Homo sapiens: one gene and its partners. The protein of the gene in region 3 purifies or fractionates together with the protein of the main gene of each other region. This does not show direct contact. Each region holds a gene or a part of one and is shown on either strand. Other genes may lie near its edges. The genes, in order: GOLIM4, HS2ST1 and SLC13A3.

Region 1 (3,654 bases), on a different chromosome or scaffold from region 3:
AGACAATGTCTAGTTCATGTTTTAAGTTCTAACGCTGCACTTGAAAATTAGTACACCTACCACACATTGCCCACACTTGTGGTCTAAATTGCTGAGGTCTATGAACCACTCTGTTGTATATGTTTCCTCAATCATCCAAAATGCAAGCTACACCCTTCTAAGCACTGCACATCAGCTAACACTATTGATTCTCAAGATAACCTTTTGTAAGCACTATTATCCTGATTATTACATATGAATAGATTGAGTCACAGAAAGGTTAAATAACTTGCCCATGACCACACAGCTAGCAAAATAAGATAGCAGAAAATCAAATCCAAGTGCTCTGACGCCTCAGCCTGTATCTATTATACCTCACTGCGCACAATACCACCATATATATGCACATTAATAGGCCAAGAAAAAGTACTACATAGGTACTACCAGGCACCAGACGCTGGAGATGAAGGAATAAAAAAAGCCTGGTTCTGTGCTGAAGATGTTTCTCTCTTTTTTTTTTTTTTTTTGAGACAGAGTCTCGCTCTGTTGCCCAGGCTGGAGTGCAGGGGGGTGACTGGGCTCACTGCAACCTCTGTCTCCCAGGTTCAAGCAATTCTCATGCCTCAGCCTCCTGAGTAGCTGGGATTATAAGCATGTGCCACCACACCTGGCTAATTTTTGTATTTTTAGTAGAGATGAGGTTTAGCCATGTTGGCCAGGCTGGTCTCAAACTCCTGATCTCAAGTGATCCACCCGCCTCAGTCTCCCAAAGTGCTGGGATTACAGGCGAGAGACAGGGTGCCTGGCCAATGTTTCCTTTCTAAAAGTAGATTTAGGGAAGGTTGAAAGCAAAGAAGTAACCAATGACAAGATGTATTCATGCTTAGGCCAGTGGGCCATCCTGAGTGTTAGAGGAGCCCAATGCAAAAAACACTTAAATAACAAATGTCTGCACACCGAAAGAAACAACACAGTAAACAGCCTACAAAATAGGAAAAAATATCTGCAAAGTATGCACCTGATAAAGGGCTAATATCCAGAAGCTACAAGGAACTCAAGCAGCTTGACAAGAAAAAAAAAAATTAAAAACTGAGCAGAGGACATGAAAAGACATTTTTAACAGGAAGCTAGACAAGAAGACAACACACATAGGAAAAAATGCTCAACATCACTAAGCATGAGAGAAATGCAAGTTAAAATCACAGTGAGATACCATCTTACACTAGTCAGAACGGCTTTTATTAAAAAGTCAAAAAACAACAAATGTTGGCAAACATGCAAAGAAACGGGAATGCTTATACACTGTTGGTAGGAATGTAAACTAGCACAACCTTTCTGGAAAACAGTATCAGGATTTCTCAAAGAACTAAAAATAGAGCTACCATTCACTCCAGCAATCCCAATACTAGGTATATACCCAAAGGGAAATAAATAATTATACAAAAAAGATACCTGCACTTGTATGTTTATTGCAGCACTATTCACAACAGCAAAGATATGGAATCAACCTAAGCGTCCATCAACAGAGAACTGGTAAAGAAAATGTGGTATATATACACCATGGAATACTACTCAGCCGTAACAAGGAATGAAATCATGTCTTTTGCAGCAACATGGATGGACCTGGAGGCCATTATCCTAAGGGAAATAACTCAGAAAAAGAAAAGTCGAAGATAGCATGTTCTCATTTACAAGTGGGAGCTATACAACGGGCACACATGGACATAGAGAGTGGAAGTGGAGACTACAAAAGGTGGGAGGCTAGCAGGGGGTGAGAGTTGGAAATTTTCCTGTGGGGTAAACATGTCCATTCTTTGGGTGCACTGAAAGCCCAGACTTCACCACAACTCAATATATGCATGTGAGAAATCCACACTTGTAACTCTGCACTTCTACACGTCACATTTGTGACCTTTTTTTAAAATTTTAAATAGTTGTAACATATTCATCTGGAATAGGAACATATAAACCTTACATAAACTTTTTCTGGATGGTTTCTCCTTATCCCTGGAAGTCCAAAAGCATTGCAATACTGTGTTTTAGGAATGTCAGGCTCTTTGCCTCTACACTAAATGCCTTTTATAAAAATTTAAATAGTTATATCTCTCTCCCAGATCTCACAGCACATAATTATTACCTTAGCAGTCACACCCTCTCCTAATCTGATATGATCCAGAACAGAGTTAATCAGTAACCGCAGTCCAAGTTTAAATTGTCAAGGAAGGTCCTTTCTTCTGATTAAAGTACACTGGATGTTTGCATATTCCTTGATGTTCATTTAAGGTACAATAAAAGGAGGTGGTTAGCTACATAAACAAATTCTGCCAATTTCAAAATTTGAAATTACCCATGACAAACCTGGCAAGAGTAAAAGGGATAAAGCAGCTTACCTCAAAGAGGGATTCTGATAACAGCTAACTTTTAACGAGCAGTACCTACTATATGCCAAGTATGTGCTAAGAGCTCTACAGTCTATCATCTTCATTAATCCTCACAATACCTCTATAAAATAGGTTATTCTAATCTCCACTTTATAAATAAGAAAAACGTCAAGGTTCACACAAAAGGTTGTAGAACTAGAACTGAATTACAGTCTAGAAACCAGTCTGCTTTTAATCACATACTCAGATAAAAAATTCAAGTGTCTCTGGGGCCAAACAAGTAAAGTAAATGCACGGAAAGGCTCAGTTTTAAGATTTTTTATAGAGGTGTGGCTCTCAACCTTGGCTGCACACAGGAATCACCAGGGGAGCTTTAAAGACTTTTGAAGCCTGGGTTCCACCCCCCATAGACTGTTATTTAATTGGTCTGGGAGCCACCAGGTGATACTAATGGGCAGTCTAGACTGAGAAACACTGCCTATAGATACAGACAATGGAGCATGGCTCACTTGAAAGCAGTTTAAAAACTTTAAAGGTTATATAAACACTGTGCTGGCCAAAGATTGTTATTACCTTTGCCACCAGTATGTGACCTCTGTCCCACTCCTCAGTATAATTAAGGTGCCAGTATGGGAGATAAATAGATGACTGATTGCTAAGAGGGATAGATAAACAGGCAGACATAGATATTTTTATAGTGGAAGGGGTTTGCCTAGTCTCTGACCTTTCTGCATGCCATCCCCACCATCTTCTAGTTATGGGGCTCTTCTACAATAAAACTTGTTAACTTGGGGTTACAAGTAACCCACTTTCAAAGGAATCTATGGAGTATAATCTATTCTTAAACTGAAGGTGACCTAAATACGCTCACTTAACGAACGCACATCATCAGATTATAGGTCTAAACTACTGAAATTTTTTCAAGAGTCATTTTTAAAAAGACCACTCTTTTTAAAGTCATTAATTCTGATCTTAATCCAAGCCAGGTCAAGCAATCCCACCTAACTAAACAAGTATTAAGACTGGAGAGCCTGATGTCCTAAAAGCCCATCTATGCAGGTGGTACACAGTGCTGTTGAGTAAAATGTCATTTGTCTTGGAAAAGGGAAGCAAAAGTTGCATACCACCAGAAAATGTACATTAAATGGCTTACACATGGGAAATCCAAAATAAATGCTACTGAAGTCAAAAGTGAATCCACAAAAAACAAAAACAAACAAAAAAATACTTTAGCCTGCTTGTGAAATAATTATTCATGCACAATTATACTGCAAGTTTTGTAGCACCATAATTA
Region 2 (3,654 bases), on a different chromosome or scaffold from region 3:
GTGAGGTAATGCATGTTGTCTTAATTAGCTTGATTTAGCCATCCATGATATATACATGTTTTAAAACATGTTGTACATGATAAATATATACAGTTTTGTCAATTACAAATAAAAAAAAACTATCTTGGTAAATGTTCCAGGTGAACGTGAAAAATATGTATTCTGTTGTTATTGGCTGAAGTATGCTGTAGATGTCGGTTGGTAGTATTGTTATGGTGTTTTGTATTCTTGATTTTTTTCTGCCTCTTCATCAGTTATGGAGAGGGGTTTTGAAATCTTTGATAATTGTGGATTTGTCTGTTTTTCTTGTAGTTATGTCACTTTTTGCTTCATGTATTTTGAAGTGCTGTGATTAAGTATATGCACATTTAGGCTGTCATGTCTTCTTGATGGACCAACCCTTTTTTTTATACAAGATACCATCTTTATCCTTGGTAATATTCTTTGCTCTGAAACCTACTGCTGTGGTGTTAATGTCTCCCCCAAAATTCACATGTTGGAAACTTAATCTCCGATGCAACAGTATTGGGGCGGGAGGTGGAGGGTGTTTAGGTGATGAGGGCTCTCCCCTCATAACTGTATTAATACTGTTATAAAAGAGCTTGTGGCAGTGTGTTCTCTTTTTTCTACGTAAGAAGACAGCATTTGTCCCCCTTTTGCCATTTCTACCCCCAACCATGTGAGGATGCCACAAGAAGTCCCTCAACAGATGCTGGTGTCTTGATTTTGGACTTCTCAGTTTCCAGAACTGTGAAGAAATACATTTCTGTTTTCTATAAATTACCCAGTCTCAGGTATTTTGTTATAGTACCACACAATGGACTATGATACTTACTTTGTCTAATACTAATACAGACACTTCAGTTTTCTTTTGATTAGTGTCAGGTGGTATATCTTTTCCCATCCTGTTAATATTAACCTACTTGTGTATTTATATTTAAAGTGGATTTTTGGTAGACAGCATCTAATCTTTCATCTAATTTCACAATCTCTTTTGTTAATGGAATGTTTAGAACACTTAATGTGATTATTGATGTGGTTGGGTTTAAATTCGTGAGTTGCTATTTGTTTTCTGTTTATCTTAACTGTTCTGTGATTCCTTTTTTTCTGTTGTCTTTAGGATTAAAGGGGTATTTTTAAATTCCATTTTTTAATTTGATGACTTACTAGCAGTGCTCTTTGTTGTTGTTTTTTTTTTAAGTGGTTGCTTAAGGGTTTATGGTATACATGATAGAATTTCATGTGTAGTATAAGAACCTTAATATATTACCACTTTTTTCTGGGTTCTTGCTATCGTCATTATACATTTTACTTCTATACATGAGTCCTACAATACATTATTATTTTTGCTTTAACTTATATTTTAAAAATATATAAAATGTTTAAAAATTTTTTAAAAATTTGCTGACATATTTACCATTCCCAGTGTTCTTCATTTTGTGTGTGTGTGTGTGTGTGTGTGTGTATGCAGATTTTCATGTGGTACCATTTTTTTCACTCTGAAGAATTTCTTTTAACATTACTTACACTTAAAAATATACTGGTGATGAATTCTTTTCATTTTGTGTGTCTGAAAAAGTCTTTATTTGCTATAGTGTTTGAAGGATATTTTTGTTGGGTATAGAATTCTAAGCTGACATTTTTGTTGTTTCAGTACTTTAAAGATATTGCTTCATTGTCTTCTGGCTTGCATTGTTTCTGATGAGAAGGTTGCCATCATTCTTTGTTCAACTATATGTAGCGTGTCTTTTATTTTTCCTCTTTTGCCTACTTTTAAGAGTTTCACTAGGTTTTTAATTATTTAATTATTAAATTATGTTTCTTGTGCCCTTGTATTATGTTTCTTGTGCCTGGGGTTTGTTGAGCTTCTTGGATCTGTGAGTTTACAGTTTTTATTACATTTAAACATTTTTGGCTATTATTTCTTCACGTTAGTTTTTCTATGCTGCTTCTCCTCTCAGGAACTCAAAATACACTTACATTAGACCACATGAAATTGTTCTACAGTTCAGTGATGTTCTATTCATCATTCTCAGTCTTTTTGTGTGTGTGTGTGTTGTTTTAGATAGTTTTTACTGCTAGGTCTTTAATTCACCAATCCTTCTGCAGTATGTAATCCACTTTTAATATTACCCAGTTTATTTTTTATCTCAGGCGTTGCCTCCCACTCCTCCCCCTGCCCTTCTAGAAGTTTAATATAGGTCTTTAAAAAATTATGTATCATTTCTTTCCTTAACATCCTGTATTAGCCCGTTTTGACGCCCTGAGACTGAGTAACTTACAAAAGAAAGAGGCTTAATTGGACTTACAGTTCACATGGCTGGGGAAGCCTCACAACTGTGGCAGAAGGCAAGGAGAAGCAAGTCACATCTTATGGTGGCAGGCAAAAAATGAGAAAGCTTATGCAGGGGAACGCCTTTTTTTTTTTTTTTTGAGACAGAGTCTTACTCTGTCACCCAGGCTGGAGTGCAGTGGCGCAATCTCGGCTCACTGCAAGCTCCGCCTCTTGGGTTCACGCCATTCTCCTGCCTCAGCCTCCCGAGTAGCTGGGACTACAGGTGCCTGCCACCACGCCTGGCCAATATTTTGTATTTTTAGTAGAGATGGGGTTTCACTGTGTTAGCCAGGCTGGTCTTGATCTCCTGACCTCATGATCCACCCACCTTGGCCTCCCAAAGTGCTGGGATTACAGGTGTGAGCCACTTCGCCTGGCGGGAATGCCTCTTTTTAAAACCATCAGATATTTTGAGACTTATTCACTATCATGGGAACAGCATGGGAAAGACTTGCCCCCATGATTCAGTTACCTCCCACCAGGTCCCTCCCACAACACAGGGGAATTCAAGATGGGATTTGTGTGGGGACACAGCCAATCCATATCATTCCACCCCTGGCCCCTCCCAAATCTCATGTCCTCACATTTCAAAACCAATCATGCCTTCCCACAGTCCCCCAAAGTCTTAACTCATTTCAACATTAACTCAAAAGTCCACAGTCCAAAGTCTCATCTGAGACAAGGCAAGTCCCTTCTGCCTATGAGCCTGTAAAATCAAAAGCAAGTTAGTTACTTCCTAGATACATTGGGTAAATACAGCCATTCCAAGTGGGAGAAATTGGCCAAAACAAAGGTGTTACAGGCCCCATGCAAGTCTGAAATCCAGCGGGGCAGTGAAATCTTAAACCTTCAAAATGATATCCTTTGACTCCATGTCTCACATCCAGGTCACACTGATGCAAGAGTTGGGCTCCCATGGCCTTGGGCAGCTCCACCCCTTTGGCTTTGCATGATATAGCCCCCCACTCCTGGCTACTTTCACAGGCTGGCATTGAGTGTCTGTGGCTTTTCCAGGTGCACGGTGCAAACTGTCAGTGGATCTACCATTCTGAGGTCTAGAGAACAGTGGCCCTCTTCTCACAGCGCCACTAGGTGGTGCCCCAGTAGGGAATCTGTGTGGGGGCTGCAACCCCACATTTCCCTTCCACACTGCCCTAGCAGAGGTTCTCCATGAGGGCCCCGCCCCACAGCAAACTTCTGCTTGGGTATCCAGGTGTTTCCATACATCTTCTGAAATCTAGGCTGAGGTTCTCAAACCTCAGTTCTTGACTTCTGTGCACTCGCAGGCTCAACACCATGTGGAAGCTGCCAAGGCTTGG
Region 3 (3,654 bases):
TTTTGCTTCAGTTTTAGCAGAATTCATGTTGCTCTGATAGGGGCTGTTTTCGAACTATCCTTTTTAGTGCCTCAAACTAGATTCTGTTCAGACATGTGATAATAAGTTAGTATGAGTTTATTTTGGTGCAAAAATTTGAAACCCATGCATAGTTTTTAAATAATACATACTTTTCATGAACTTTTTGAAGATCCCTTGTCTTAACCTCTCTGTGCCTCAATTTTCTCATTTGCTAAATGTAAATGAAAATAATACTAACCTTCCTTTCATAAGGTTGTTTAATGAACAAATAGACATAACATACTTAGAACAGTCCCAGGCACATAGTAACATTCAATAAATGTTCTTATTTTTTCCATCACTGTGTGACAGAGATATTCTGAATTTTGCAATAGCAAGGATGAAAGCACACACATTAAGTTCTATTAAAATGTCAGGTATTATTTATTGTTAGGAGGATGGAGAAGGTGAGTGTTTTAGTCAGGAGTCTGAGTTGCAAATGACAGAAACTTGAATCACAGGGACATTAAGTCACCTATCCAAGGTCACGAAAGTCATGGTGTAATCAAGCTATAGTTCAAATCCAGGAAGTCTTGCAACAAGCCCATGTTCTTAACCGCTGTGCTGTTCTGCTCTTCTGTGAACCGAGTGCTGTGAGAGCATAGATATTGGAACTGACCAGGACTTTAGGGTGGGGGTCACAGGATAAAAATGGCCTTTACAAGATGAGTCATAATTCACTAGATGAAGAAGCAGAAGAATGTTCCTGGCAAAAGGAAAAGCATGTGCAAAGGCCCAGAGAATGACAAGCAGCGTAGACTGCTGAGAGAACTGTGTCCAAGATAACAGAGAAAGTGGGGAATGTGGGAAGCCTGTACTGGGACACACTGATAAGCTTTGAATGCCATGACTGTGAGTCTGGGGGCCATGGGGAGCCAGAGGAGGTGTTTGAGCAGGGGAGTGACATAATCTGAAGTGCATTTTAGAAGTATTCCTTTGACTGCTTATGTGGAGGATTCATGAAGACAAGTGCAAAAGTTGAGAAATAGTCTCAGTGAAAGCTGATGAAGTTTGACCTTAGTCAAGGGCAGTGCAGATGGAGAGGAGAGACCTAAAGACTCAGGCTCTAATGACAGAGCTTGGACTCTATTGTATCAGATCATGCCTGGGACCTCTCTCAACTGGGTTTGGCTCAGATAAACCCCAAATCCAGCTGGAGGACATGAGCCTTTTTTTGACTCAAATACAAAAGAGGCTTCCAGCATAGGCAAGAAGGCAGTCCCTCTCCTTCTCTGTGCCAAACACCTCTCAAATCCTAGCTCGGAAAGATGTCACCCTGTCTGAGAAGGCTTCTGTCTTAGATTGGGTCTTCAGAAGGACCCTGAGACAACAATTTGACTGCAAGGAATTTGGGGGCAGTGGAGAAGGGAAACAGTGAAGAGCATGGAAGAAATACAAGTGTGCCAATGAAGAGGTTACTACCAGCAGCAGTGACTCAGCCTTACTGGGGACTTCTGGGAAATGGTATTCGACATGCCTCAGTTATCCCACTGAAAGGCAACTGAAGTTCGTGGCTAGGAGCTACTCCTGGAGTGTTATTTCTTGGCAGTCTTGGCCAAGTGTGCTTCTGAAACCGGAGAAATCTGAAGACGTCACTGGTGTGAACAGGAATGATGGGCACTGAAGCGAGAGACGGAGGACTGTCTTAGTCCATTTGGGCTACTATAACAAAATACCTTAGACTGGGTGATATTTAAACAATAGAAATATATTGCTTACAGTTCTGGGGGCTGTGAAGTTCAAGATCAAGGCACTGGCAGATTCAGTGCCTGGTGGGGCCTTGCTCTTTGCTTCAAAGACAGTGCCTTATTGCTGTGTCCTCACATGGCAGAAGGAAGGCTCTTAGGCCCTTTTTATGAGGAAACTAATCCTATTAGTGAGGGCAGAGCCCTCACGACCTAATCACCTCCCAAAGTCCCTGCCTCTTATTACCACTACAATGGGGATGAGGATTCCATGTATGAATCTGGGGGGACAGAAACACTGAGACCATAGCAAGGAGGTGCTGAGGTGTCTGCCCTTCTCAGACCCCACTGGCTGACACAGCTGCCTTTCACCTTTGCTCCATAGCTCACTGTCTTAAACTCTGTTTTAGCCCTTGTCTCTCTGGGAGGTGAATGATTTGTCTTCATGTCTGTCTCCTTGAGCAGTGGAAGCATATGAACCAAGGATGGGCTAGGCACCAAACCTTGAATGCCTAGTAGAGGGGTGGACTACAGTCTAGGAATCTAGGACCAGGGATGGGCTGGGCACCAAACCTTGAATGCCAAGTAGCGGTGTGGACTACAGTCTAGGGGTCTAGGTGTCTCATAATAGACCTAAGATGAAAGTGAAACATCTTATAGTCATATCATTTTCAAAACGCAAAGATGAGGATTGTCTGAAGGGGTCCAAGAGTTAATTTATGGTATGTCTGGGCTTCTGTGGGAATTTGAGACTATAATCTCCACCGAGGACTCATATTTACAAATTGGGATACCTGTTGGTCTGGTGAGTGGTACACAGAACAGGATACATGGGGCATTCCTTCTTGGGTCAGCAGGAAGATTTGATAGAAAGTAATTGTATATTTTTAAAAGCACGAATTCATTGTGGAGCAGGATACCAAGCATGGGTGGAAGAAAGTCAGTTTTGCGCAGAATGTGATGCAGATTTCCTGGCCCAGGGGGTGATACATGGATGTTCTTCTGCCTGGAGGCCCACAGTGGTGTGCTGCAGCCAGCTTATGCTGGCTTGGGAAATGTGCTTGTCAAATTTTTAGGAATTCTAATAGCCAGTTATTAAATACAGACCTTAATACACACACACACACACACACGCACACACACACACACACACAAGTTTTTCAGAGAGCCAATTGTTCAACATTTACCAACACACATCTGTTGTTTGAGGGATATTTGGCAGAAAGAGCCTGGGAAGGTGATTTGGGTTTGAGAAGCACTGTAGTTTTTTTTTGTTTGGTTTTTAGAGACCAGGTTTCACTGTGTTGCCCAGGCTGGACTTGAACTCCTGGCCTCAAGCAATCATCTTCCCTAAGCCTCCCAAGTACCTGGGACTATAGGCACCTGACTAAGAACTGTTTATTGGTTGGCATGGCCAGATTTACTTGTTAAAAATTTAGGCTATGTCTTAGTCATTTTCCTTGTACCAGCTTCCAGCCCAGGGCATAAAATGTGGTCAGGAATAAAGTTTGCTAAATGGATGGATGAATGAATGATAGCTTGGATCAAGCTTTTTCTCTAAGTTGTAGAAACATGTTTTCATCATTCAACAGATATTTTGAGTGCCTACAATGTGCCAGGAACTGTTCTTGGCACTGGGAACACAATCCCTGCTCTCCTAGAGCTTGCATTCTAATAGAGGAGAAAACATATAAAGCTATAAAATCTGCTTTCAGGTGGTAACCGGTTACATAAAAGAACATGAAGCAGGATAATGGGCTGGAGACAGAGTTTCATGCTGCTTTTGTACCAGGAGCCAAGACTCAAGAGGAGAGGTGGCTCCATCTCTCCAAAGTTGTATGTCTTCAGGAAGGCCCCTTTGGCTCTCTGAGCTGTGGAAACCGATTGTTCCCAGCTGATATTCAGGTTC

What was found.
Region 1: the proteins of SLC13A3 (region 3) and GOLIM4 purify together in Homo sapiens (affinity purification with mass spectrometry; one large-scale study listed by BioGRID and IntAct). This does not show direct contact.
Region 2: the proteins of SLC13A3 (region 3) and HS2ST1 purify together in Homo sapiens (affinity purification with mass spectrometry; one large-scale study listed by BioGRID and IntAct). This does not show direct contact.

The regions. Positions count from the first base shown.
Region 1 is NC_000003.12:168,089,281-168,092,934, forward strand, and holds part of GOLIM4 (Golgi integral membrane protein 4), read right to left. Parts: intron 1-3,654. UniProt on the Homo sapiens protein: Plays a role in endosome to Golgi protein trafficking; mediates protein transport along the late endosome-bypass pathway from the early endosome to the Golgi.
Region 2 is NC_000001.11:86,920,982-86,924,635, forward strand, and holds part of HS2ST1 (heparan sulfate 2-O-sulfotransferase 1), read left to right. Parts: intron 1-3,654. UniProt on the Homo sapiens protein: Catalyzes the transfer of a sulfo group from 3'-phospho-5'-adenylyl sulfate (PAPS) to the 2-OH position of iduronic acid (IdoA) or glucuronic acid (GlcA) within the heparan sulfate (HS) chain and participates in HS biosynthesis.
Region 3 is NC_000020.11:46,616,834-46,620,487, reverse strand, and holds part of SLC13A3 (Na(+)/dicarboxylate cotransporter 3), read left to right. Parts: intron 1-3,654. UniProt on the Homo sapiens protein: High-affinity sodium-dicarboxylate cotransporter that accepts a range of substrates with 4-6 carbon atoms, such as the citric acid cycle intermediates succinate and alpha-ketoglutarate (2-oxoglutarate), as well as other compounds including N-acetyl-L-aspartate.